Linked DNA regions of Homo sapiens. The protein of the gene in region 3 interacts with the protein of the main gene of each other region in a pairwise test. Each region holds a gene or a part of one and is shown on either strand. Other genes may lie near its edges. The genes, in order: ELOVL7, RBP1, UBE2J2 and ATP13A2.

Region 1 (7,790 bases), on a different chromosome or scaffold from region 3:
AAATAGTTTTTCCTGATGGTATATTATTTACCCATGCAATAAAATGTAAATTATGATAGTAGTTTTATCTCTTTGAAGAGCAGTTTATTATTATGAAATGTAGGACATGAGAATTTTAACTAGATACTATTATGTTAGATTTGGCCTTCACAAAACTGTGATATCAAGATAAACTGATTGAATAAACATTCAGATAATATAGTTGGCACAGAAAGCATTTTTATAATATTTGAAGTCAGATCAAAGTTAATTTCATGATCATAATAAGTGGCAATTCTTCACAGTCAAAAATCATGAGTATTTTCAAATAACTGAGGTTTACAGGAAAATAATTATATTGATTGTTATAATAACTTGAGGGATGTTCTCATTCTGTATCTCACATTGTCTTGGAGATATTAATTTTACATATATCTTAGATATGTGAACAGGATTACCAGAAAGAAAATGATTTTTCTGAAACTCATAGTTTGCATTTCAATGCCAAAAAAAATTAAAAGGATGAAGCCTTTAAGTCTGGCAGGCTACAGATACCTTGTGGTAAAGAAACAAGATGTGGGAATGGTTGATAGTCATTTACTCAATGAACCTATCATATTGCAATTATGTTCTTCCTCTGATGATATCAGAGTTATCATTATCTCTCAGAGTTATCATTATGAAATCTATATAAAAAAATAGGAAAACATTTTAAAGCATTTAAATATGAAACTCACAAAAGTACATTCCACAACTTTTCTAAATTTCTTTTTGCCATCTACATATTTATTTAGCACCCACTGTTTGTAGGCTAATATCCTAGGCACCACAGATATAAAGAGAGAGTAGATAAAATATCTTCCCTTTAGGGCTTATAGCACAGCTGGGGAGGCAATGATAAGTATCAGAAAAGATAGGTCACATGTAAGGTGTCTCAGCAACTCTTAACAGAATCAGTTAAGAGCGTGTGTTAAGATGCACATTCCTTGGCCCACTCTCCAGACTCACTAAATCAGCATCTCAAAATAATTTTCAGGAACTTGCATAACATCCCAAGCATTGTGACTCTCAGTAAAGTATAAGAATCACTGGTAAAAGTTAAATCCATATGATACTGACATAGAGTAAGAAGTTGACAGGGTTCAATTTTCTCTTAAAGAATAAAATATAGTGAAAAAAATTGTAATTATTCACAAGGGTTATCGTTGCCTCAAGAGAATACCAGAGGCACTCTACAAATTACTAATAATTTAGTAAAGACAAAGGATTTACAACCATTAAACAAAAATTAGCGTTCTTATATTTACATTTAGAAAATGTAATTTAAAAATACATATACCAGGCCAGGCACGGTGGTTTACACCTGTAATCCCAGCACTTTGGGAGGCTGAAGAAGGAGGTTCTTGAGACCAGGAGTTTGAGACCAGTCTGGGAAACATAGCAAGATCCCGTCTCTACAAAAAATTAAAAAATTAGCCCCCCATGGTGGTGCATGCCTGTAGTCCTAGCTTCTCTGATGCTGAGGCTGGAAGATCGCTTGAGCCCAGAAGTTCAAGGCTGCAGTGAGCTATGATTGTGTCACTGCACTGTAGCCTGGGCAACAGAGTGAGACCCTGTCTTAAAAAAAAAAAACGTTGATAGTAGTGGCAATAATTATAAGGTTCCTAAGAATAAGCATAATAAAATATGTGAAAGACCAACTATGGAGATATATGTTCATGGATGGGTCACCTCAATATCATAAAGATGACAGGTTATCCCTAAATAACTTTAAGACAATTAAAATAAAAATCCTGCCATAGCTTTTCATTGAAAACAAGAAAGAAAGCTTCTTTTCACATTTACATAAAATAGTAAAAGTAAAAGAAAATATAAGGCAGGACACATAGACAGTGGAATGGAATCAAGAGCCTAAACACAGAACCCCGTGTGTGAGAATTTAGCAAATGGGGAAAGGAGGGATAATCTCTTCTCTATTCTCACTCTTGGTGCTCTTAGCCATTCTCATGCCTTTCAGTGTCATCTGGAAACTGACTACATCCAGATTTATATTGCTAGCCCAGACCTCTCTTTCTTGACCTCCAGACTAGTGTAATCAACTACCTACTTGACATTCATTCCCATTTAGATAGGTAACAGGTATCTCAAATTAAAGCAATGCCAAACAACTCCTGACCTGCCCTTCTCCCTACATTTTTCTTTCACAGTTTTTTTTTCTTTCAGTAAATGGCATTTTTTTTCTTCGAGTTACCCAAGGCAAACACCCTGGAGTCATCCTTGACCTCTTTTTTCTCTCTCTCATAGCCCATATCAAATTCTCAGGAAATCCTGTTAATATTACCTTCAGAATGTATTTTTTTAAATCTTCTTTCACTACTACCAACTTGGTCAAAGCCACCTTTATCTCTCATCTGGATTTCCCAAGAGCCTCCTGATCATCGTCTTACTTCTGTCCTTCTTCTCTGCCTCCATACCCCATGCCCTATTCTCAAAAAAGTTGCCAAAATACTCTTGAAAATGTCAAAGTATGACAGTTTTTTACTCAAAATGCTTCCTTAACTCTTTGACCTCATTTCTTACTGTCCTCACTCACTGAAATTCATCTGACATCTCCCCTTTGCTGGTCTATGAATGGAATATCCCACACCACACCCCCAGAGCTTTTAGCCTTGCCATTCCCTTTGAGTGGAATGCTGTTACTGGATAGGCACACAGGTGTGTCACCTTACCTGTTCAAAATCTGGGCTGAAATGCCTGCTTCCACTGGGGCCTTCCCTAACCACTTTAACATTTAACACAACTCCCCACCTCCAAAAGTCTCCATCCCCTTCCCTTCTTTATTTTTCTTCATAGCACTTATCAAACCCTGAACATCACATTTTTTTTCTTTTTTTTCCTCTTTTTTTTTTTTGAGACAGAGTCTAGCTCTGTCGCCCAGGCTGGAGGAGTGCAGTGGCGAGATCTCTGCTCACTGCAACCTCTGTCTCCCAGGTTCAAGCGACTCTCCTGCCTCAGCCTCCCAAGTCGTTGGGACTACAGGCACGCACCACCACACTCGGCTAATTTTTGTATTTTTAGTAGAGACGGCGTTTCACTGTATTGCACAGTCTGGTCTCGAACTCCTGACCTCACGATCTGCCCGCCTCGGCCTCCCAAAGTGCTGGGATTACAAGCGTGAGCCACTGCGCCTGGCTGAACACTACATTTTTTTTACTTCTTTATTCATGTATTGTCTGTCATCTCCAACTAGAATGAACGTATAGTCCCTGAGAACGGGGAATTTGTTATCTATTGAAACTTCAGGGCCTGGAACATAGCAGCACTCCAGTATTTGTTAAATAAATGAATCCATTTGAGCTTCTGCATATTTGAAATTTCATAAGTATATATAAATGGTAAATTGTGATAGACTCAAAGGCTAGTATCATTAGGCAATTGTCTCCCGTTCCCAAAAGACTTCCTAAGTCTACTAAATGATCTGTTTTTAATATGAAAGCAAAGTTATCTAAAAGAAAGGAGAAATCTTTAGTTTTTTTGACTTCGAGATTCTTTGCAATTTAAGCTTTTTTTTTTTTTTTTTTTTTTTTTTTTGCTTTTCTTTCAATGGACACTTTCGAAGTTTTACATAAAAACATTAAAACCTCTTGTTTAATGTAGTGGGATTAAGCTGCCGAAGGCAATCCCTACATGTGAGGAAAATATGCTTCCGACACCCCAATTTTTTTTTTCTCCCTACCCATCCTCTCTGGTGGTCCTGACGCTCCCAGCCCCTTTTTGTGTTTCTTGATTCCATGCTGAGAACTCGCAATACAAACTCAAAGCCCACATTTGTGAGGTGGTTGGGTCAGGACTGCAACTAAAAATGATTATTGTTTTTTAGGTTTCTGGACAGTTCAACACCAGCCTTTGGTTTTGCCTCAGAAGCAGGGAACTTCTCTAGGCCCCTATTTTGCCTTTCAGCTATTGATGATCCAAATCATACCAGCGATTAGGAGGATCATTACCAGACACAAGGCCAGGTACGTTTAAAAAATAAATAAACCAAGCGCAGGTGCACACTCCGAACGCTCATCCCCACCCCCACTTTCCAATCCAACAGTAGGTAACGAGAAATGAATTTTCTAGACTTTTTTTCCTGCAGCAGTTGCTGTTACCAGAAACAAAGTTAGATGATATACAATCTAATCTTCATTGCTCTAAAAGTCCTCTCCCCATGCCCCCCAGGCTGCCTCAATTCTCTAGTTTCTTATTCCTTATAAGCAGGGGATGGAGCTGAACCAAGTCGGCCTTCCCCTCCCAGGGCCTTCTCCTCTTGGTCTGGCTTCCATTTCAGATGCGAATTAACCCTCCCAATACCCTTTCAGAAGCAAGGAGTCCCCTTTTTCTCCGCCTCCAGCCTCAGCTAGGTTTTCCTCATTTCGGATTTTTCTACTGCTCATTCCCAAATGAGTCACGCATGACGACAATTTCCACTCTGCTATGTCAGCCTGGAGATGTCCCCCAAGTGATGGCATCTGCTCTCGGAAAGAAAGGTCATCGGTGCCACGACCAGCCCCGCTAACCCAGAGCGGCCGGTGGGCCCCAGTCCCGAGAGTCAGGGCGCGCGGCGGAGGCGAGGCCGGGGCGGCCTCCGCCCTCCCGGCCGCTCCCCCTCGCGCCGCCCCGGCTCCTCCCTCCGGCCCTCGGCGGGCACCTGGCGGCGGCGGGCAGGGGGCGGCGCTGCGCGCGTCACGCGGCTGGGTGGGATAGCGGGCAGGTGACACCCGGCGGCCTCCTCCCCTTTCCAACCCAGTCGGCGGCCGGGACAGCGGGGGCCGCTGTGAGGAGCTCCGCGCTCGCGCTGCCAGTCGCCGCCCTCTCTCCCGCGCGCGCCCGGCGCTTCGGCTCCGCTCCCTGTGCGGTGAGTGCGGGGTTCCAGGCCGGCGGGCAGGGGCCAAACTTTCCCGGCGCGCGGAGGAGAAGAGACTGGGGAGGGAGGCAGAGCCGAGGGGAACGGCGTCGGGAGTGGCCGGATGGAGGAACTTGGGCGCGGCGCGCGAGAAGTGGGACCCGGGTGCGGGGGCCCCGGGAGCGGGGCCAGGCCCTCCCTGGGCTCGGGAGGCGCTTGGGAAGTTCTGTCCCCGCTGCCTGCGCGTGGGGAGGACCGAGGCCCTTTTCGCCGGAGCGCGGGGCCGCGGCGCTCACCTGCGCCTTCTCGGGAGCCCCCACCCGGCAGCATCCCGAAGGGAAGGTCGGGCCCGGTGGGCGCGCTGCGGAGCGGAGCCTGGACTGGGGTCCCGCGCGGCGCTGGCCCTGCGGAGCGGAGCGGGAGGGGCAGAGGTGCTCGCCGGCGGGACTGGGAGGGAGAAGGACCTGCTCGACCTTGGACGCGGAGGTCATTTTCCCAGCTCCGGGGTCTGGCCTCGCTAGCCACCCCCCCAAATTCCGGAGCCCCTTTCTTTCTGTTTCCTTCCTTCCCCTTTGGGCGCTTTTTTTGCTCCCGCGGCCAGATGAACTTGGGGCGCTGTCCCTTCGGCTCCCCGAGCCGCATCCTGTCTTGGTGGCTGCTGCTGGCCGGGAGGAGGCTGATGAATACAGAGCCGTGGAACAGGTCGTGCCGGAGATGGAAACAGGAAAGCCTGTTGTTTTGTCGTCCCAGGTATCGTTGGTTCTTTGGGAAATGGGCTTTCCCAGGTTCGTTGGGAAATGGGCTTTCCCAGGTTCGTTGGGAAATGGGCTTTCCCCCTTCAAGTCAGAGCTGTTTCAAACTTCACCCGGTGCGGACAGAGCGCTCTTTGGAGCTCCCTGGGGAACTCGGGACGGGAAGGAGCGGGTCTTTACACCTGTCCTGCTCCCAGTGTAGTTAGTCCCGCGTCGACTGAAGAACAGTTTTAGCGACCCGAGTTCCTCGCCAGTGGTCTTTTCCCTCTTGCTACGATCTCCCCTCGGAAAGCATGTTCACTTAACCCTGTGCTCTCGGATTACCCTTTATTTCATTCCTCACTTTTATTGCTTACGTGCTCCGAAAGGGTCATCGATACCTGGTGGCTGCCTCTGCGTTCTTACCACGCACCCGCTTATTCATTCCCTTTCTTTGTAGTTTCTCTTCGTACTACTGATCAGAAATTGGTCTCCCCAAGGTCACCGAGAACTAAATAAAATCCACCCCTCACCCCGTGGCAGACATTTATCAGTGCTTAGGTGCCAGGCACTGATGTCAGTTCTTGTGTAAAAGCTTTTAATCTTCACAACGATCCTGGGAAGTAGATATTAATATTATTCTCATTTTAATGATGAGGTAACTGAGGCACGGAGAGGTTAAGTAACTTGCCCAAGGCCACACCCATCTCAGCGGTAGGAGATTCCAGCTCTGGGGTTCTGTCTCCAGCACTGGAGCTGTTAACCACTGTCCTACACTGCCTCACCTAGAGTTCGTTTGCTCGTCCTTATTTTCTGAAGTCCCGTGCTGTTTCAGGCATCGTTGACCAGGCTGTCAATCTCAGGTCCCTCTTTTCCTTCTTATGTGTCTTTATACTAGTTTAGGATCCCCACACCCTCCCCCTGCCCCCGCTTTTTTTTTTTTTAAGAAAAATAGATTTTTGGGACTTTGTTACTTCATCTATCACCTGTATTTATCTGGCTTAAGATTCTGTGCTTTCCATGTCTTCTTCAGTTTTAGTGTAACGTCTGTCAGTGCACATTATAATATTCCGCTTGGACTTGCCCGGCTTTTCCCCAAAACAGCTCCAGATGCTCATTTCCATTAAGGGTCCTGCCATTATCCTGGTCTCCAAGGTGCCGTGCCATTCCTCTCCCATTCGTTAAATATCTTCTATCCAATTTTTACATGGTGTCTTCTAGCCTTTATCAGTCTCGCCCACTCCCATCCTCTCTTCACCACTCTCCCTCTTCCCCACTTTGAACACATATGCCCTTCTCTGCTATTTGTTATCATCTTTTATGTTTGCTTTGCACAAAAAGATTGCAAACAGCTTAGGACATTAAATCTTCAGGCCTTACAGCTAGTAGTTGCTTGATAAATGTAGAAGATGATACAGTATAAATTTTGGTAGCACACATCAGGCAGGTTTGATGATGGAAATTTTTAAGCCAGGTTTTACAGGAAGTTACGGAGTTTGCATTGGTAAACGTGTAGGAGCTGGTAGACATTGTACATGAAGGGGAGAAAAGCCTGTGTTCACTCCATTGTCACAAACAGGTACCCAGCTGTTCTGATGAAACATTACATTTAGAGGTATAATGAAGCAAATCAGCAGAAAACCATTTATCCTTATCTTGACAAAACAAAATATGAAAACACATAAAGTTAAAAAAAAACCTTTTTATTGAAAAACGTAGCACATACATAAAAGTGCATAAAACATAAATGGACAGATTAACACAGTAGATGTATTCAGCAATAGAACGACAGTGTTATTCTGGCCATAGATAGGCTACAGTCAGGCCAAATAGGAATCTTTTCACAAAAACCTGTATAAGGTGAAGTGGGCCTGGACTGCTCCCAAGAGGCATTGCCAAGAAAGAATTGGCTGTGCATGGAGAGGCTTGAGGAGAGAGAAAATAAGACTGGAAATTGGTACCAAAAGGATAAGATCAGGGAGCCAAGAAGAGAGTTCAGACCCACTGAACATAATTCTACCACAATGAATATTTAACCAGGTTGCCTTTGTCTCTCTCTTTTTTTCTATGCATATTTTCCTTCATCATACTCCATATAGTATTTTAGTATTCTCAGGCTGGGCACAGTGGTTCGCCCCTGTAATCCCAGCACTTTGGGAGGCTGAGGCAGGTGGATCACCTTAGGTCAGGAG
Region 2 (7,033 bases), on a different chromosome or scaffold from region 3:
AGGGAAGGAATAGGGCTGGAGAGACAGGCAGGGCCATGATCTGAAGAGCCTGAGTGCCATCTGGCTTTTACCCATCAGCACTGGGAAGCCCTTGGGAATTTTGAGCTGGGGAGTAGCATGATCAGATTCCCTTTTTAGAAAGGGAGGGATGGGCTGAAGTGTTGAGCATGGTAAAATGGAGATGAATGTGAAGATACTGCAGTAATTAAATGAAATAATCCATGGAAAGCGCTGAGCCTGGCACACAGTAAGCACGAGAGATGTTAATTGTTATTATTATTACTGGCACGAGATATTCAGAGCAGTGGGAATGAAGAAAAACAGGAAGAGACGTTAAGAAGCAGAATCTATGGAACTTGGTGACTGAATGCCTATAAAAACTTTTCATTTATCTTCATAGTGATCATTTACACGGCTACATAGTGGTCTATGGAATTAAAAAGCCAGTCTTTCTAACCACCCATAGTTATTTGATATTTAGGTATACCAGCAGGAGACAGCCTGTTCTATAAAAACCATACAAAGTAGGGAATCAGAGACATCCGAAGTGAGATCACAAATCTATGGTTAATCAGTAATGTGAACCTGGGCAGGACCTTTGGCTCCCTGTCTGTAAAATGGGAGAGTAGCACCTCCTATCCAGGATTGTTAGGAGATTAAATAAACATAAAATGACAGGGCAGGGCCTGCCGCATAGTAGGCCCTGAGATAGTGGTTATGCTTCTGTGGGTTGTTGAGAATTATTATCACAGAGTGACTAACAGATACCTTTGTACAAATAGAGTGATTTTCCTGGAATATAATCCCATAAGTGGGATCCCTGAGTCAAAGAGTAAGATGATTTTCTGATTTATTGCACATTGTGAGAAGATTATTATTATTATTTTTTATTTTCTTAGTGCAGGACCAGTTCCACTGTAAAGCTGGCAAAGGTAGGTTTTGGAGACTGGGTTCCATGCCATCCCCACCTTCACACCCATCTTGTTTATACCATTCTTTCCCAGAGTATTCCTATGCTATCCTTGGACCCTCAGTTCAGGAAAGACAGAGGGAAGAAAGAGGGAAGGGGTGGGAAGAGGAAGGAAGAAAGGAAGAACGCACTAATCCCTGTATTAAAGGTAGCTGGCACCCTATGGTGTTTGCATTCTTGGAAACTACCTGCCACGTAGTGAGGAAGCCCAGGCACCCAGCAGAGAGTAAGTGTGGGTTAGCCATCTGGAAAGTGGATCCTCTACCTCCCCACTGGCAGGGCAGGCAGCAGGGACAAGGCATCCCCACTGAGCCCTGTCCAAATTGCAGATTTGTGAACAAAATAAATATTGTTGAGTTAGGGTACTAAGTTTCAGAGTGGTTTGTTACACAGCAACAGGAAACAGAAATAATTCATCACCATATTTAATTCTCACATAACTCCATTAGGTGGGTATTACCCTTGGCTCCTTTTACAAATGAGCACATTGAAGCTCAGAGGGATAAAGTACCCTTGCCAAGGAAACAGCTGTACGGCAGAACCAGGATTCAAATCCAGGTCCATCTCAAAGTCAAAGCTCCTAATTGCTCTGTTGTACCTCACACCTGTCCAGCTGCACACACTATTGGTATCACTTACTTGGACCCTCAATTGCAAACCACTGTGGGCTGCTGCAAGATTGAGGTCCCCAGGCAGTCTTCATCCCCCACTACCCTGATCCTGGGATGGAGCTACACCTACCTATTCTCATTCATCCCCTAGAACTAGGCACATTTTACCCCAGCACAGGCTTATTACATTGAATCATGATGAGAAAAATCACAGGAAACTAGGCACAGGCCAGCCTGCTTCCTTGTTTTTCTTTGTTAGTAGTTATCAAAAGCATGGTCCTTGAACCAACAGCATCAGCATCATCCAGGAACCTGTTAGAAAAACAAGTTCTCAAGCCTCACCCCAGACTTTCAGAATGAGAAATTCTAGGGGTAAGGCATGCTCAAATTTGAGAACCACTGCTCTAACTACTTATGTGGGTCTTAACGCTTGATATCTGGAGTTTGAATGTCTTAGGATGTTTTCAGATGCAAGTGGCAGGAAACCAATTCACATAACTTAAGGTGAAAGAAAAAAAATGTATTGGTTGAAGTACATGGAAAATCTAGGAATGGTGCGTCAGGAACTCTAGTAACCCTCTAATGTTGCATTCTCTCTGTCTCTATTGGCCTCATCTTTTACTTTCCTTCAATTGGATTTTTCCATGCAGCTAAGGAAGGTGGGGTAAGGGGACTGGCCTCAGAGAACACCAAGCTTACATCATAACAGCTCATCAACCTTTAACGGAATAGAACTCACCTGTCTCTCAGGGTTCCTAAATTAACTCCCAGGAAATGGTGACTGGCCCAGCTTGGGCCACATACACAAGTATGTGACAGGCCACGGGACACTGTGATCACCCTATCAGAAGGTGCTCTTCCCAGAAGAGACAGGGTACTATGATTTGCAGCCCCACCAGGACCCAAAAGGTTGAGGAGGAGTAATTCCCACCATAAAGAAAACAGTGCTTCTCTTGGGTGGGAGGTGGAGGAACAATGTTGGTCAGAAAAACAAACAGCTGTAATTCATTCAGTAAATACCTGGCCATCATAAGTGATTATGCCATGCCCCTCAGTCTCGGGTATCACAGGCCCTGGCCCTGTTCTCACATAGTATTGTGGCTTCCCAAGCTCATGTGCCCTGTACTATCTCTATGGTCCTCAGCTTTGCCTTGTGAGACACGCTGAGCAGCAATTATGATGCCCGTTTTGCAGATATGAAAACAAAGGCAGTGTGTCTAATCATTTAAGGCCGCTGTCAGATAATCGAGAAGAATTCAAATAGATGTTCTGACTCTAATACCGGTGCTCCTTTCACTCATCCTAGGCCTTGTCAAAACTGCCTGGGTTTACCTTCAGACTGTGAGAAGGCTCACAATAAGGAACTGAGGTGCTGGCCTTCAGCAAAGCTCTGTGGGAGACCTTGGGGTAGAGAGCTTTATAAACAGACTAATTAGAATTCTTCCTCTGCCACCAGCTAGCCCAAGGGTGACCTTGGGCTAAAAAGGCACTTCACTTCTTTGAGCCTCAGATTCTCATCTGTGAAATGAGTATAATGATACTTACTGAACAGCATTTGTTGTGGGGACCAAAGGAGAAAAAGTACAAAAAGCAATTGGGGCAGGCATGGCACTTAGTAAAGATTCAGTACATGTTATTTTCCTTTGTTCCTGCCTAACAAAACCCAAAACCCAACAAAGCAGTGTGATTTTTGAAAGCTACTTTGTGAATTTTATTTGGGTTGCTTTAATTCTTCTTTTTGTAATCCTCAAAAGCACGCTGCTGACACCGATTTCAAAGGTCGGAGAACTTTAGCTAAGACATGAAAGAGATCCTGTGTTTCTAGCCTGGAAAGGGCCCAGCTGAATGCCGGGTGCCTGATCTGGGCAGGGGCAGCTCTCAGAGGCTCCCACATCCAACGGCATTCTCAGCGCTGCAGCCCAGGGAGTTAATTTAGCCAGTGGCATTGTGTGTGCGTGTGTGTGTGTGTGTTTTTTAAAACAAATCAAAAAATCTCTTTAATGGGTCAAGAATAGGATCAGAAAGCTGGCAAGAGTTTAAACCAAAGTGTCAACAGTACTTTGTTGGATTTCATGTATTACCATATATAATTAGATGGATGGATGGATGGGTGGAGAAATAGAAGGATGTAAGTAAGGAAGTCAAGGGAGGGAAGGAAAGGAAACATAGACGGTTAAAAAAGAACTTAGAAAATCTGTAAGTGCTGATATGGAAAAATGTGTAAGAAATATCACTGAGTTAAAAAAATATGTAGAGAAGTGGATTCCTTTTTTTCTTTTCCTTTCTTTCTTTTGGTTTTAGATAGAGACCTTGGCCAACTGCCTAATCAATAGATAGATCAATTATAAGTCTGAGGAAGATTTCCGGACAGATCCACCAAGTGGGAATCAGGCCAAGTGGGGGAAGGGGCCCTTTTCAGCCCATACTTTCTTGTGCTATTTGAATATTTTCCTTTTATAATAAAAACAAAGAAAGCGACAGAGGGGCGGAGGGCTGGGAGCAGAAGGCAGGCCCTGTGGAGGGGTCATCCTAAGTTCAACGATGGATATGAAGCTGAGGCTCCAGCCACAGGGGGAGGCGCCTGTTCCCCGAGTGAACAAAGCCATCTCCTACAGGAAAAACATGACCTGGACACGGGGATGACAAATGGCCCTTCTGCCACCCCCGCAGAGCCAGGCTCACGGCTGTGATTCCTGGCCGAGGCTCAGTCTTCTCCCACAAAACCTGCTCATGCTGGGGGGACTTCGAGACAAAGAACCAAATCATTTTGAGGCGCTCGCTTCCTCGGGAGTGAGAAAACACTATCTGAAGTCAGAGCACCTTCCTTTCTCAAGAGCTCCCACCCTGCCAAAGCACATATGTGTTATATTCAACAAATGCTGCTGGTTCCTTGCTGGGCCTGATCGCACATTTTTATGGACAAAGGCATGCAGGAAGCAATGGAGAAAAGCCCTGTGTCTGTTCAGCTGAGCCCAGACTTTGTATATCTCTACCAAAATAGTGCCTGCTGTTTGTGGTCACATAAAATCTGATTAGATCAGACTGGAAATGTGAGCCTAGTGATGCAGAGCCGCCCAGATCTGAGTCCCTCCACCCCTCCACCTGGGGAGAGAACACAGAGCTGTTTCAGGTGGTTCTGGGCATGGACTGCAATGTCCATAGGACTCAGGTGATGGGCCAAACTGGCCCTCTACATGCCCATGGCCCTGTACACCTAATTTTACAGTTTTCCATTTTTTTATAGAGACACAGGAACAGAGTATGTTTCTTTACTCCAGAGCAGTGATTCTTAAGCTTTAGTTGCATCAGAACCACCTGGAGGGCTTATTGAACCACAGATAGCTGGCCCCACTCCCAGAGTTTCTGATTCAGTAGGCCAGGGGTGTGGCCAGATAATCTGTATTTCTAAGAGGTTCCCTGTGATGCTGCTGCTGCTGCTGCTGCCTCTGCTTTGGGATCCACAGCTCTAAAGGAACCCACAGTGCAAACAGCGACAAATGGCCATTTGATCCTTGACTTCAGGTAACAGGATGGGCTGAAGACTGTGGTAAACTAGGAAATGTAACATCTAAAGGGAGCAGCTGCAACATATTCCAGGGATCCACGCAGTGCAGGAATAAACAGGTGCCCAGTGTTTCCAGGGCCTTTCCTTTTCTTGTTGTTTTTGTTAAGAACAGCCAGAAATACGGATTTTCTGTGAAATCTTACAATCTTTGGCAATTATTGGCAACTGACTCTGAAGCTTTTCAAACATTGTACAGGCCAAACAAAACACATCTGCAGGCTGGGTTTCACCCTCTGGCTGCAGTTCTAGAATACAGATAAGGTTCCCATGGAAAAGAGGCAGGATCAGAGATCTCTCAGCCAGTGAGAGCCTCTGCCCTTTGGGGAGGGATGTCAGCCTGGCCACACCTCTCCCAGCAAGGACTCACAGAGGCCTGTCAGGGTCACATCAAGTCTCCCTGCCAGGTTCTCCTGGCTCTCTTCTCTCCCAGCCACATCTTGCACTCCAGGCATGCTGAAGTCTTCGCAGACTGCTCCTCTCTCACCTCTGAAACTCCCTCCCAGCCAGGCTTTTCTGACCCTGGGCCTTTGTACATGTGGTTCCCGCTTACTGGAAAGCTCTTATCCTTTTCTCCACATCTGCCCTAATTAGTCCTTTAAGGCCCCTCTCAGCTGTCGCCTCCTCTGGGACTTTCCCTGACCACTGCTTTCCTACTCCCAGCTGTATGCTCCCCAGCCCACCGTGCTCCCATCATGCATTGAGCTGTAATGGCCTGAAGATGTGCCTGTCTCCTCCACTGGCCTGGGTGTCCAGAAGGCCTTGTTGCCTCTGCGACCCCAGGGCCAAGCCCAGGGCTTGGTGTGGGACAGCTTTCGGCCGTGGCCTTTCTTTCAACCCCTTTCTGTTTGCCTGGCTACTTCCTGTCTATCCTATAAGCCACAGTTCAGACTCCAATTCCTGTGGGAGCGTTCCCTGACCTCTCAGACCGAGCAGGGAGTGCTTCTCTGCCTGTATCAGCACAGTGTCCACTACGTCGTGATTGGCTGCTTCAATTTGCCTCCTCCTTACACTGAACTCCATGAGGGCAGGAATCGTGTGTGATTTGTCTCATTGACACAGGGGTTGCAAAGATAGTGGAAGCACCATGAGATGCTTGTGGTGTCCAGAGAGGAATGAAAAAAATAGACGAATGACCGATCCCAAGTGAGAATGGGACTCCTGTAATATGCTGGGAACAAACTCCTCTGGGCCACTGCTCCTGGCTGATGGGTGCCCAGTGTGTGAGGCAGAGGGGGTAGCAGTGAAAGTGATCTTTGGCAACCACCTTGTCCAGGACCCCTGGCGGCCCTCAGAGAGCCCAGCTGGTGGCCTCTGGGTACCCAGCTCCCCTCCATTCACAAGTCTCAGGCCTGACAGCTGCTCTAATTCTATCATCCTACCCCCATCCAGCCATGTCCTTCCGGCAGTCCAAAGCAGCATACCACCCAGCGGCCAGCCCAGAGAGAAGGGCTTTTCTGTACTGCATGGGGCTAGGCGAAGGCTTGAGCAGAGCAGACAGGCTGTTCCATCTCCCAACAGGCCACAACAGGTGAGCGAATGGCTATCTACTTGAGAGTGGGCATCCCTGAGTCCTGGGGCAGTGATAGTAACCATGCATCCTAGACCAGTTTCACTGGATTCGTCCAGTGGCTGAATCTGCACGGTCTGCTCGACTACTGCTTGATGCTCGATTGACGCTGATGCTGTAGTGAGAAGAAAAGGTGGCCCTTGTCCTTTCCTTTGTATCCAAAACCCTCCCTTCTACCTCCCTGCTTTATTTTACAATGAAGCACAGAAGTCACCTCTTTCAGAAATTCTTCTGGGATCCCCTTCTCTGGGTAGTCCCCATCCCCTCACTCCCACCCTGTGCTTTTCTTTGCCACACTGTGTTGCGAGTGTTGGTGTGCC
Region 3 (3,476 bases):
CAGGCAATCCTCCCACCTCAGCCTCCTGAGTAGCTGGGACCAAAGGTGCACATCACCACACCAGGTAGTGTTTTGTATTTTTTGTGAGATGGGGTCTCACTACATTGCCCAGGCTGGGTTCAAGAGATCCACCCCTCAGCCTCCCAAAGTGCTGGGATTATAGGCGGCAGCCACTGCACCCGGCAGTAGCGTGTTGAGTAAACACTCTATTCGTTAGCATTCCCCCTCCCATGAGCCTCGGGAGACACCGGGCTTTGGAAGTGATGCTGGCGGTCACAGAAGCGGAGATCAGGGCAGGGCTGGCATCCAGTACGGGATGGGGAGAGAGCCCTGCAGAGGGCTCTACACCATGGCTCCAGCGACGCGATTCCCTGTGGGGACCCACCTGCCCTGCAGCTGCCACACCACCCCAGGCCAGCAGGTGTGACCCCCTGGTCACGGGCCACCCCAGCCCTGAGCACAGAGATGGACACACATCCCGGCCCACACAGACACAAGCAGCATGAAATTCAGAAATAAAGATATAATGAAAGACCTTTTTTTTCCACAAGAATAGGTTAAATACATACAATTGGTAAATTATAGAGCAATTCTGAATAAACTGATCAAAAAACGAAGAAAGATGAGCGCGTGCGGGCTGGGCTTGTCTCACGCCCGCCTCCGGACAGGGTGGGTTTCTTGCCGGCGGCCGTGCCCCACCTCGACGCGATGCACCTGCGGTACATCCCACCCAGGCGAAGTCACGGAACAGACGCAGAAGAGGGGAGACGGCCGAGACCCGGGGAGCCACGCGGCCCGAAACAGCCCCTGCTGGCTCTGGCGTCTTTCCGGGCCGGGGTGCCCCTCTGCCATGTTCCGTGGACAGCGAACACCCGGGCCGGAGCCATTACCTACTGTGAAGGCCAGCGCAGGGGGCACGGGATGTGAGGGAGGCCCCCGAGTGCACGGGGCCTTCTGCAGGGACTCCGGTCCTCCGCCTTCCACCAGCATAGGAGGACGGGCTTCTGGCCCACCGGACATAAGGAATTCAGAGAAAAGGCTCTGCAGGTACCCAAGGCCCCCCAGCCTGCAGCACCGAGGGGCGCCCAGGAGGCCCGGCCTGCGGAGGGCACCGGCAGCCCCCGCCCCGCTCGCGGCCGCCGCAGTCAAGGGCGACTTGTGGTTGGAGTGAGCAGGCTCCTGGCTTCCAGGGCAGCAAAAACCCCCAAGCACTTTCTAGAAGGAATGTGTTTCATTCTGACTGTAAACACATTTGTAAATGCTGAGACCAAACCCCGACTTATGGATCCTGAGCCACGGCCGTCACTGGCCCCGCTAAGCCTCATCACCACACGGCCAGGCCAGACCAGCACCCGCGGACGCCAGCTCCACCCCTGGGCCCCGAGGTTCCCACCCGCTGAGGAGCCGGGAGCTCCGAGAAACGCGCCAGGAGCTCCAAGAACGCAGGAGCAGCCCGCGGTCGGCAGCAAGTTTGCATTTCTAAGTGACCACATCTAATAAAATGAAAAACGGGTTTACTAAAACAGGTCCAAAGACAACACGGAAGATAAGCTACAAATCCAGCACACAAGGCCCACCCACACCAGCCCCAGCGGCCCGTGGCCAGGACAGGGCTGAGGCTCCAGTCTCCTCCAAAGCCCAGTCACACATTTTGGTTTTTGCTTCCCCTTTCAGGTTTTTAAAAGCTAAACCTAGGAGCCTGGTGGGTCTGCCTGTGCTGGGCAGTGTGTCCAGCCTGCCGAGGTCACGCTCTGGTGCGCGGTGCCCTCAGTGGCGCCTTGGGTCTCGGCGCCTGGGCCTCACTCCTGCGCGATGCTCCTCAGCACGTACTTGACCGTGTAAGCAAAGGCTGCAAACCCAACTATCACAAACAAGTTCGCCAGGGCGCCACCCAGGAGTCCGTGGTGCCGGTTGGCCTGCTGGAGCCCTGCGAGGTTTGGGACGGCCCCCGGCGCATGCCCGTTGAGCAGCTGAATCCCGTTCTGGACGAGGTGCGTCTCCCCGTCTGGAACCACGTCTGGCAAGGGGAGAGTCTGGGGTCTGCTACTGAGTTCGTCTTGTGCTTTCTGTTTTTGTTTAATCTCCTAAGAGAAAAACAGCGAGAAAAGCAGCTGGTCTCCAACCAGCGCCTTTCAGGACCAGCACTCCCGTTCTCAGGAGTCCACGGTCCACCACCAAGAACCAAGCCCTAGGCTGTGTCAAATTCCGACCCCATCTCACAGGTGAGGGCCCGAGCGTGGCCGGCCTCACTGGCCCTGTGCCCCTTGGCCCCTGCACTCAGGCAGACCAGAGCAAGGCTGAGCCACAGAGGCCAAGACCAGGGAGCACTCCAGTCCCAGTCCCACATGGCAGCCGCTGTGCCTCCCAGCTATCCCCAGACACCACCCAGCTGGCTGCTCAGAACCACGAGCTCCACGCCCCTGTGGGACAGGCCCAGCCCCCGGCCCACCAGCACAGCTGTCCGCAGGCCACCCCCCAGAGCCCAGGCTTTCTGCCTCCCCTGCCTCGGGGCTCCTGGGGGAGAGGAGCCATCCCCTGGGGAGGTCTGCAGCTTCAGGACACAGATTTTACTCTTTGGAAAGAGGTGAAACTCAAGTGTTTTAACGCAGGGGAAGGCGAAACCCACTTCCGTCTTTCTTACCTCCACGACTTCAGGAAATAATTCACAAAAGACTTTATCTTTCAAATTAAATGCTAAACTCTGCACTGCCAGTTGTCTTTTCTAGGAAGGAAGGGAAGGGAATCAGCCAGAAAACTAATTTCAATTCTTTCAAGATTCTAAAAACAGATGATTTCAAAGTCAAGGGCTGCAGTCTTCGTGTTGCAGAAAGCATTTAATAAGCACACTCTTCACAGCAAACTAACTTATAGTCTTACAAAGCCTTCTTAATCTTCCCCCCATCAATTCATGATATCACACTTGATTCCTATTAAAGACAGGGAAAAACAAGCCACCAAAGCACCGGGCTCCCCGCTGACAAGGCCCGGGCCGTCTGTGCAACTGGTACCGCCTTGGCCCACCCCAAGATCCCAAGGAGGAGCCCCTGGCGGGTGTGGATGAGGCTGGATGTGGATAAAAGCAAGACCGAGAGGCAGCGGGGAACACGAGGCCACAGAGCAAAGCAGTCTCCACGACAGTGCCTGGGACAAGGTGGGAACTCCACCCAGCCCCGCCTACTGAGAAGAAAGGCAGCTGCGGCCGGGCGCGGTGGCTCACGCCTGTAATCCCAGCACTTTGGGAGGCCCAGGCGGGCGGATCACGAGGTCAGGAAATCAAGACATCCTGGTTAACACGGTGAAACCCCGTCTCTACTAAAAATACAAAAAAAAAAATTAGCCGGGCGTGGTGGCGGGCGCCTGTAGTCCCAGCTACTTGGGAGGCTGAGACAGGAGAATGGCGTGAACCCCGGGGGGCGGAGCTTGCAGTGAGCCGAGATTGCGCCACTGCACTCCAGCCTGGAGACACAGCGAGACTC
Region 4 (7,033 bases), about 16 Mb from region 3:
AGCGCAGTGGCTCATGCCTGGAATCCCGGCACTTCGGGAGGCCGAGGCGGGTGGATCATGAGGTCAGGAGTTCAAGACCAGCCTGGCCAATATGGTGAAACCCCGTCTCTACTGAAAATATAAAAAATTAGCCAGGCACGGTGACATATGCCTGTTGTCCCAGTTACTCGGGAGGCTGGGGCAGGAGAATCGCTTGAACCCGGGAGGCAGAGGTTGCAGTGAGCTGAGATCACACCACTGCACTCCAGCCTGGGCAACAGAGTGAGACTCCGTCTCAAAAAAAAATAAATAAACCGGGGAGGGGGATGACCAGATTCTTATAGTTCCCAGGCTAGCCAAGGAGCCAGACGCGTACTTGGGCAGTTAGAGTCTAGGATGGGGAACGCAGGCACTGACTCATGCGCTCATTCAACAGATATATTGAGGCTGGGCGTGGTGGCTCATGCCTGTAATCCCAGCACTCTGGGAGGCCAAGGCGGGTGGATTGCCTGAGGTCGGGAGTTCGAGACCAGCCTGACCAACATGGTGAAACCCCGTCTCTACTAAAAATACAAAAATTAGGTGGGCGAGGTAGCGCGTGCCTATAATCCTAGCTGCTCGGGAGGCTGAGGCAGGAGAATCACTTGAACCCGGGAGGTGGAGGTTGCAGTGAACTGAGATTGCGCCACTGCACTCCAGCGCGGGCGACAGAGCAAGACTCCATCTCAAAAAATAAAAATAAATAAAAATAAAAATAAATAAATAAATAAATAAATAAATGAGAGAGAGAGAGCGAGCCAACCGTGGGCCGGGTCCTTAACCACAATGCACAAGTGTGGGGAAGTGAAGAGGCCATGGGTAGGAGCCCAGAGCAAACCACCTGCCCTAACTTGGGAGTTAAGGAGGAAGACACCCTGGAAGAGATGATGCTAGACAGAGAGACGGTGGGGGCTGGGGAGGGGGACCCCAGCAGAGGGAATCACATGTGCCAAGGACAGCAGTCAAGAAAGGTCATCTTTTGGCTCCAGCTCGAGTTCCTGGGGTTCCCATAGGGTCCGCCGGGCCTGGGGTTTGGAGGCCCAGCTCAGCAGGGTACCCCCATCCCAGGACTCATCGCTGCCCCACCCACCTGTCTCCCACAGACGGGCACCCTCACTGAGGACGGCTTAGACGTGATGGGGGTGGTGCCCCTGAAGGGGCAGGCATTCCTGCCCCTGGTCCCAGAGCCTCGCCGCCTGCCTGTGGGGCCCCTGCTCCGAGCACTGGCCACCTGCCATGCCCTCAGCCGGCTCCAGGACACCCCCGTGGGCGACCCCATGGACTTGAAGATGGTGGAGTCTACTGGCTGGGTGAGGAGGCCAAGCAGGTCAGCCCCCTGCCTCTGGGCAGTGGGGCCTAACGAATCCCACCCTGTCTTCCCTCTCCATCTTTCAGGGTGGTCTCTTATTATGCCCACCATTAATAATAATAGGCCAGGCGCAGTGGCTCACACCTGTAACGTGGCTCCCGGCGCTTTGGGAGGCCAAGACGGGAGGATCACTTGAGCCCGGGACCCCAGCCTGACCTACATGGCAAAACCCCATCTCTGCCAAAAATACAAAAATTAGCCGGGCGTGGTGGTGCATGCCTGTAGTCCCAGGAGGCTGAGGTGGGAGGATTAATTGAGCCCGGGAGGGCGAGGCTACAGGGAGCTGTGATCACGCTACTGCACTCCAGCCTGGGTAACAGAACGAGACCCTGTCTCAAAAAATAATAATGATAGGCCAGGTGCAGTGACTCATGCCTGTAATTCCAGCACTTTGGGAGGCTGAGGTGGGCAGATCACCTGAGGTCGGAAGTTTGAAAGCAGCCTGGCCAACATAGTGAAACCCCGTCTGTAATAAAAATACAAAAATTAGCCAAGTGCGGTGGAACATGCCTGTAGTCCCAGCTACTTGGGAGGCTGAGGGCAGGAGAATCATTTGAATCCGGGAGGCAGAGGTTGCAGTAAGCCGAGATCACACCACTGCACTCCAGCCTAGGTCACAGAGTAAGACTCTGTCTTAAAATAAAAGTAACATAATAATAATGGCAAGGCCTCAGGCTGAGTGCCTACTATGCGCCAGCGCACGGCCACAGAGGCCTGGTCTCATTTCCTCTTCCCCAAGCCCTAGCAAGCAAGCTCAAATGTTGCTTCACGGATGCTGAGGCTGGGAGATTTGGAGTGACGTATTCCAGGTCACCCAACAGCTTGTAAGTAGCAAAGCTAGAGTTTGAATTTGAGTCCACCGGGCTCCAAAGCCCACATTCTTAACCCACCATTCAGTCTCCCATGAAGGAAGTCTTCCCTGAGTCTAGCTCAAATCTCTCTGTGAGCCAAAGCCCCCAGACACCAAACTTCCCTGCCTGCCTGCCAGGTCCTGGAGGAAGAGCCGGCTGCAGACTCAGCATTTGGGACCCAGGTCTTGGCAGTGATGAGACCCCCACTTTGGGAGCCCCAGCTGCAGGCAATGGTGAGCTGAGGGGGGCCTGTTGGGTGCAGGGCAGAGGGGTGGGCTCCCCAGCCAGCACCTCAGCTGCCTCTCCAACCCTGCAGGAGGAGCCCCCGGTGCCAGTCAGCGTCCTCCACCGCTTCCCCTTCTCTTCGGCTCTGCAGCGCATGAGTGTGGTGGTGGCGTGGCCAGGGGCCACTCAGCCCGAGGCCTACGTCAAAGGCTCCCCGGAGCTGGTGGCAGGGCTCTGCAACCCCGAGACAGGTGCAGGGGGAAGCCCCTGAGTCCCCCTGGTTGGGCATTGGCACAGAATGGGGTGGGTACCCAGCCTCTGTCCCTGCCATCCCCTCCTTGTGACACCTGCCTCTCCCTGGCAGTGCCCACCGACTTCGCCCAGATGCTGCAGAGCTATACAGCTGCTGGCTACCGTGTCGTGGCCCTGGCCAGCAAGCCACTGCCCACTGTGCCCAGCCTGGAGGCAGCCCAGCAACTGACGAGGTGGGCCTGTCTCCTGTCCCACCCACTCTGAGGACTAGGCAGAGGGAGGCTCTCACGCAGGCAGAGCCCAAGGAAGATGCCCTGCCTGGTGGCTGGGAGAGGGGCCCTGGCCACTGCATGACCTCTGATCCAGGTCTGCCCACCCTCCAGGGACACTGTGGAAGGAGACCTGAGCCTCCTGGGGCTGCTGGTCATGAGGAACCTACTGAAGCCGCAGACAACGCCAGTTATCCAGGCTCTGCGAAGGACCCGCATCCGCGCCGTCATGGTGACAGGTACAATGGCATGTAGGGGCCCGGGCTAGCAGGGCAGAATCCGCCCCTTCCTGGCAGAGAAGAGGGGCACCAGGGATTCCTTTTTGGGGCATCTTTTTGGGCCCTTGCTTCAGGCCAGGTCCTTTTTAAACATTTCGTGAATCTTCACAATATCCCCCCCGCAAGTGGTAATTGTCACCCCTGTTTGACAGATGAGGAAACTGAGACTCAGAGGAGTGGAGTGACTTCCAAGGAACCCATGTGCGCTGTCAGACAGCCTGGGTTCCAGGTGGCACCTCTGAGAAATGGGGATAATGATGTCAGCCTCAGAGGCTGTGACAAGCTCAAGGAGCAGGAAGAGAAAGATTCTGGCCGGGCACGGTACTTCATGCCTGTAATCCCAGCACTTTGGGAGGCCAAAGGAGAAGGATGTCTTGAACCCTGGAGTTCAAGACCAACCTGGGCAACATGGCAAAACTCCGTCTCTACAAAGAATACGAAAATGGCCGGGCACAGTGTCTCACGCCTGTAATCCCAGCACTTTGGGAGGCCGACGCGGGCGGATCACTTGAGGTCAGGAGTTCGAGACCAACCTGGCCAACATAGTGAAACCCCGTCTCTACTAAAAATACAAAAAATTAGCCAGGTATGGTGGTGGATGCCTGTAATCCCAGCTACTCGGGAGGCTGAGGCAGGAGAATCACTTCAACCCGGGAGGTGGAGGTTGCAGTGAGCTGAGATCACGCCATTTCACTCCAGCCTGGGCAACAGAGAGAGACCCAGTCTCAAAAAAAAAAAGATTCTAGCTAGGGTGAGACAGCAGGAGCTAAGAGGTCTGTGTCCTTGTCCTCCCCGCCCCTGCACACACACATATGTGCACACACATTCATGGGCACTTGGCAGCAGAGTCACACAGCAGTAAGGAGTATATGTAGCCTGGGCACATGGCTCGTGCCTGTAATCCCAGCACTCCGGGAGGCCGAGGCAGGGGGATCACCTGAGGCCAGGAGTTCAAGACCAGACTGGCCAACATGGTGAAACCCCATCTCTACTAAAAATGCAAAAAAAATTAGCCTGGTGTGGTCGCACCCTCCTGTAATCCCAGCTACTCAAGAGGCTGAGGCAGGAGAATTGCTTGAGCCCAGGAGGAAGGAGGTTGCAGTGAGCCGAGATCAAGCCACTGCACTCCAGCCTGGGCCACAGAGAGAGACTCTTGTCTTAAAAAAAGAAAAAAAAGGAGTATATGTGGAGCTCCAGCCCACGGCTCCAGGTTCTCCTAAGACCCTTCAATGCCTGGATCTACAGATGAGAAAACTGAGGCAAAGGGATGTTGGTAACCTGCCTCAGCTCACTTGGCTGGTGGTGGCAGACGGATTTCATCCAGCCTGTTTTCCCATCTGTAAGGATCAGGATGAGGATGGCCTCCCCGGATAGCCTCAGACCCTCACCTTGCCCCATAACCCCCAGGGGACAACCTGCAGACAGCGGTGACTGTGGCCCGGGGCTGTGGCATGGTGGCCCCCCAGGAGCATCTGATCATCGTCCACGCCACCCACCCTGAGCGGGGTCAGCCTGCCTCTCTCGAGTTCCTGCCGATGGAGTCCCCCACAGCCGTGAATGGCGTTAAGGTGAGGCTAACCCAGAGTTCCAGCTGTACCTCACCCAGTGACCCCACCCCTGTGTCACCTGACCCAGGCCCCAACTCTCCAGGGTGGGCAGGGGGAGCTAAGCTGAGCTTCCTGGGCCCCCAGGATCCTGACCAGGCTGCAAGCTACACCGTGGAGCCAGACCCCCGATCCAGGCACCTGGCCCTCAGCGGGCCCACCTTTGGTATCATTGTGAAGCACTTCCCCAAGCTGCTGCCCAAGGTAGGGCCGCCCCCAGCTCCCTGGCCGCCCTGCGCCTCCCCTGCTCTGTCTCCTTCCTCACGGCTCGCTCTCCCTGGTGGGTGCCTCAGCCCTCCCCCATCTCCCTGTGCTCCCAGGTCCTGGTCCAGGGCACTGTCTTTGCCCGCATGGCCCCTGAGCAGAAGACAGAGCTGGTGTGCGAGCTACAGAAGCTTCAGTGAGTGCTCGGCAGAGGGTGTGGGCAAGGGCCTGCGGAGACTGAGCTTGTCCGTTCGTCTGTTCATCTGTCCTTCCCCAGGGCCCTGTCTCCCTCCTCAGGCACCAGAGAGCTGTCACCCCTCCTCACCAAAAGCAGGCAGGCTCTCCCAGGTCTTTCATGCTAAAAATAATAATTGTAGGCTGGGTGCGGTGGCTCATTCCTGTAATCCCACCTCTTTGAGTGGCCGAGGTGGGAGGATCACTTGAGCCCAGGAGTTTGAGGCCAGCCTGGGCAACAAAGTGAGACCCCATCTCTTATTAAAAATTTAAAAATTAGCCAGGTGTGGTGACACACCGGTCATCCCAGCTACTCAAGAGGCTGAGGCAGGAGGGTTGCTTGAGCCTGGGAGGCTGCGGCTGCAGTGAGCCATGATCACACCACTGCACTTCAGCCTGGGCAACAGAGCGAGACTCCGTCTCAAAAAATAGTAATAGGCCAGGCGCGGTGGCTCATGCCAGTAATCCCAGCGCTTTGGGAGGCTGAGGCAGGCAGATCACCTGAGGTCAGGAGTTCAAGACCAGCCTGGCCAACATGGTGAAACCCTGTCTCTACTAAAAATACAAAAATTAGTTGGGCATGGTGGCGCACACCAGTAATCCCAGCTACTCAAGAGGCTGAGGGCACTTGGGCAGCAGAGGAGGTTGTAGTGAGCAGAGATCACGCCACTGCACTCTAGCCTGGGCAACAGAGGGAGACTCTGTCTCAAAAAATAATAGGCCGGGCACGGTGGCTCATGCCTGTAATCCCAGCACTTTGGGAGGCCGAGGCGGGTGGATCACCTGAGATCAGGAGTTTAAGACCAGCCTGGCCAACATGGTGAAACCCCATCTCTACTAAAAATACAAAAAATTAGCCAGGCGTGGTGGCGGGCGTCTGTAATCCCAGCTACTTGGGAGGCTGAAGCAGGAGAATCACTTGAGCCCAGGAGGCAGAGGTTGCAGTGAGCTGAGATCATGCCATTACACTCCAGCCTGGGCAACAAGAGTGAAACTCCGTCTCAAAAAATAATAATAATAATGATAATAATAATAATAATTGCATCTATTCACTGAGCGCCTCCTGTACACCAGGCACCATGTGGCATTAGGGGCCCAGCTGTCATCATATTCTGCCAGCCCACCCATGGGGTGGTGGGGTAATTCCCCAGGCCACACCTGTCCACACCTCTCTTCAGGTACTGCGTGGGCATGTGCGGAGACGGCGCCAATGACTGTGGGGCCCTGAAGGCGGCTGATGTCGGCATCTCGCTGTCCCAGGCAGAAGCCTCAGTGGTCTCACCCTTCACCTCGAGCATGGCCAGTATTGAGTGCGTGCCCATGGTCATCAGGTAAGGCAGGCAGGGACCGGTGGGTGAGGGCTCAGCAGGGCTGGTCAGCCAACCTGGGTCCCCTAATGTCCGTGCCCTGCCACCCAGGGAGGGGCGCTGTTCCCTTGACACTTCGTTCAGCGTCTTCAAGTACATGGCTCTGTACAGCCTGACCCAGTTCATCTCCGTCCTGATCCTCTACACGGTGAGTATCTGCAGAGCTCCGTACCCAGAGCCGTCCCAGGACTAGGGAGGGGACACAGCCCTGTGCCTTGGAGCTGGCAGGTCCCAGAATAGATGACGTGGGCCCAGATCCTGACCCTGCCACTCTCCGGCTGTGTGGTTGGAGAGGTGGCAAGGCTTGGGGGAGATGAGAAAAACACCAGGCACGGAGCCTGGTACCCACTAGGTCCTCACAA

Evidence for each region.
Region 1: the proteins of UBE2J2 (region 3) and ELOVL7 interact in binary tests that used the Homo sapiens proteins (3 or more experiments, as listed by UniProt).
Region 2: the proteins of UBE2J2 (region 3) and RBP1 interact in binary tests that used the Homo sapiens proteins (3 or more experiments, as listed by UniProt).
Region 4: the proteins of UBE2J2 (region 3) and ATP13A2 interact in a two-hybrid assay, tested with the Homo sapiens proteins (one study listed by BioGRID and IntAct).

The regions. Positions count from the first base shown.
Region 1 is NC_000005.10:60,841,249-60,849,038, reverse strand, and holds the start of ELOVL7 (very long chain fatty acid elongase 7), read left to right. Parts: upstream 1-4,769; 5' UTR 4,770-4,879; exon of another isoform or gene 4,880-4,991; coding exon of another isoform or gene 4,992-5,617; intron 5,618-7,790. UniProt on the Homo sapiens protein: Catalyzes the first and rate-limiting reaction of the four reactions that constitute the long-chain fatty acids elongation cycle.
Region 2 is NC_000003.12:139,529,729-139,536,761, forward strand, and holds part of RBP1 (retinol-binding protein 1), read right to left. Parts: intron 1-7,033. UniProt on the Homo sapiens protein: Cytoplasmic retinol-binding protein. Accepts retinol from the transport protein STRA6, and thereby contributes to retinol uptake, storage and retinoid homeostasis.
Region 3 is NC_000001.11:1,253,404-1,256,879, forward strand, and holds the end of UBE2J2 (ubiquitin-conjugating enzyme E2 J2), read right to left. Parts: intron 2,723-3,476; coding exon 2,642-2,722; intron 2,085-2,641; coding exon 1,800-2,084; 3' UTR 509-1,799; downstream 1-508. UniProt on the Homo sapiens protein: Catalyzes the covalent attachment of ubiquitin to other proteins. Seems to function in the selective degradation of misfolded membrane proteins from the endoplasmic reticulum (ERAD).
Region 4 is NC_000001.11:16,987,924-16,994,956, reverse strand, and holds part of ATP13A2 (polyamine-transporting ATPase 13A2), read left to right. Parts: intron 1-1,121; coding exon 1,122-1,328; intron 1,329-2,375; coding exon 2,376-2,471; intron 2,472-2,554; coding exon 2,555-2,714; intron 2,715-2,827; coding exon 2,828-2,948; intron 2,949-3,098; coding exon 3,099-3,223; intron 3,224-4,669; coding exon 4,670-4,830; intron 4,831-4,953; coding exon 4,954-5,070; intron 5,071-5,186; coding exon 5,187-5,266; intron 5,267-6,482; coding exon 6,483-6,635; intron 6,636-6,722; coding exon 6,723-6,819; intron 6,820-7,033. UniProt on the Homo sapiens protein: ATPase which acts as a lysosomal polyamine exporter with high affinity for spermine. Also stimulates cellular uptake of polyamines and protects against polyamine toxicity.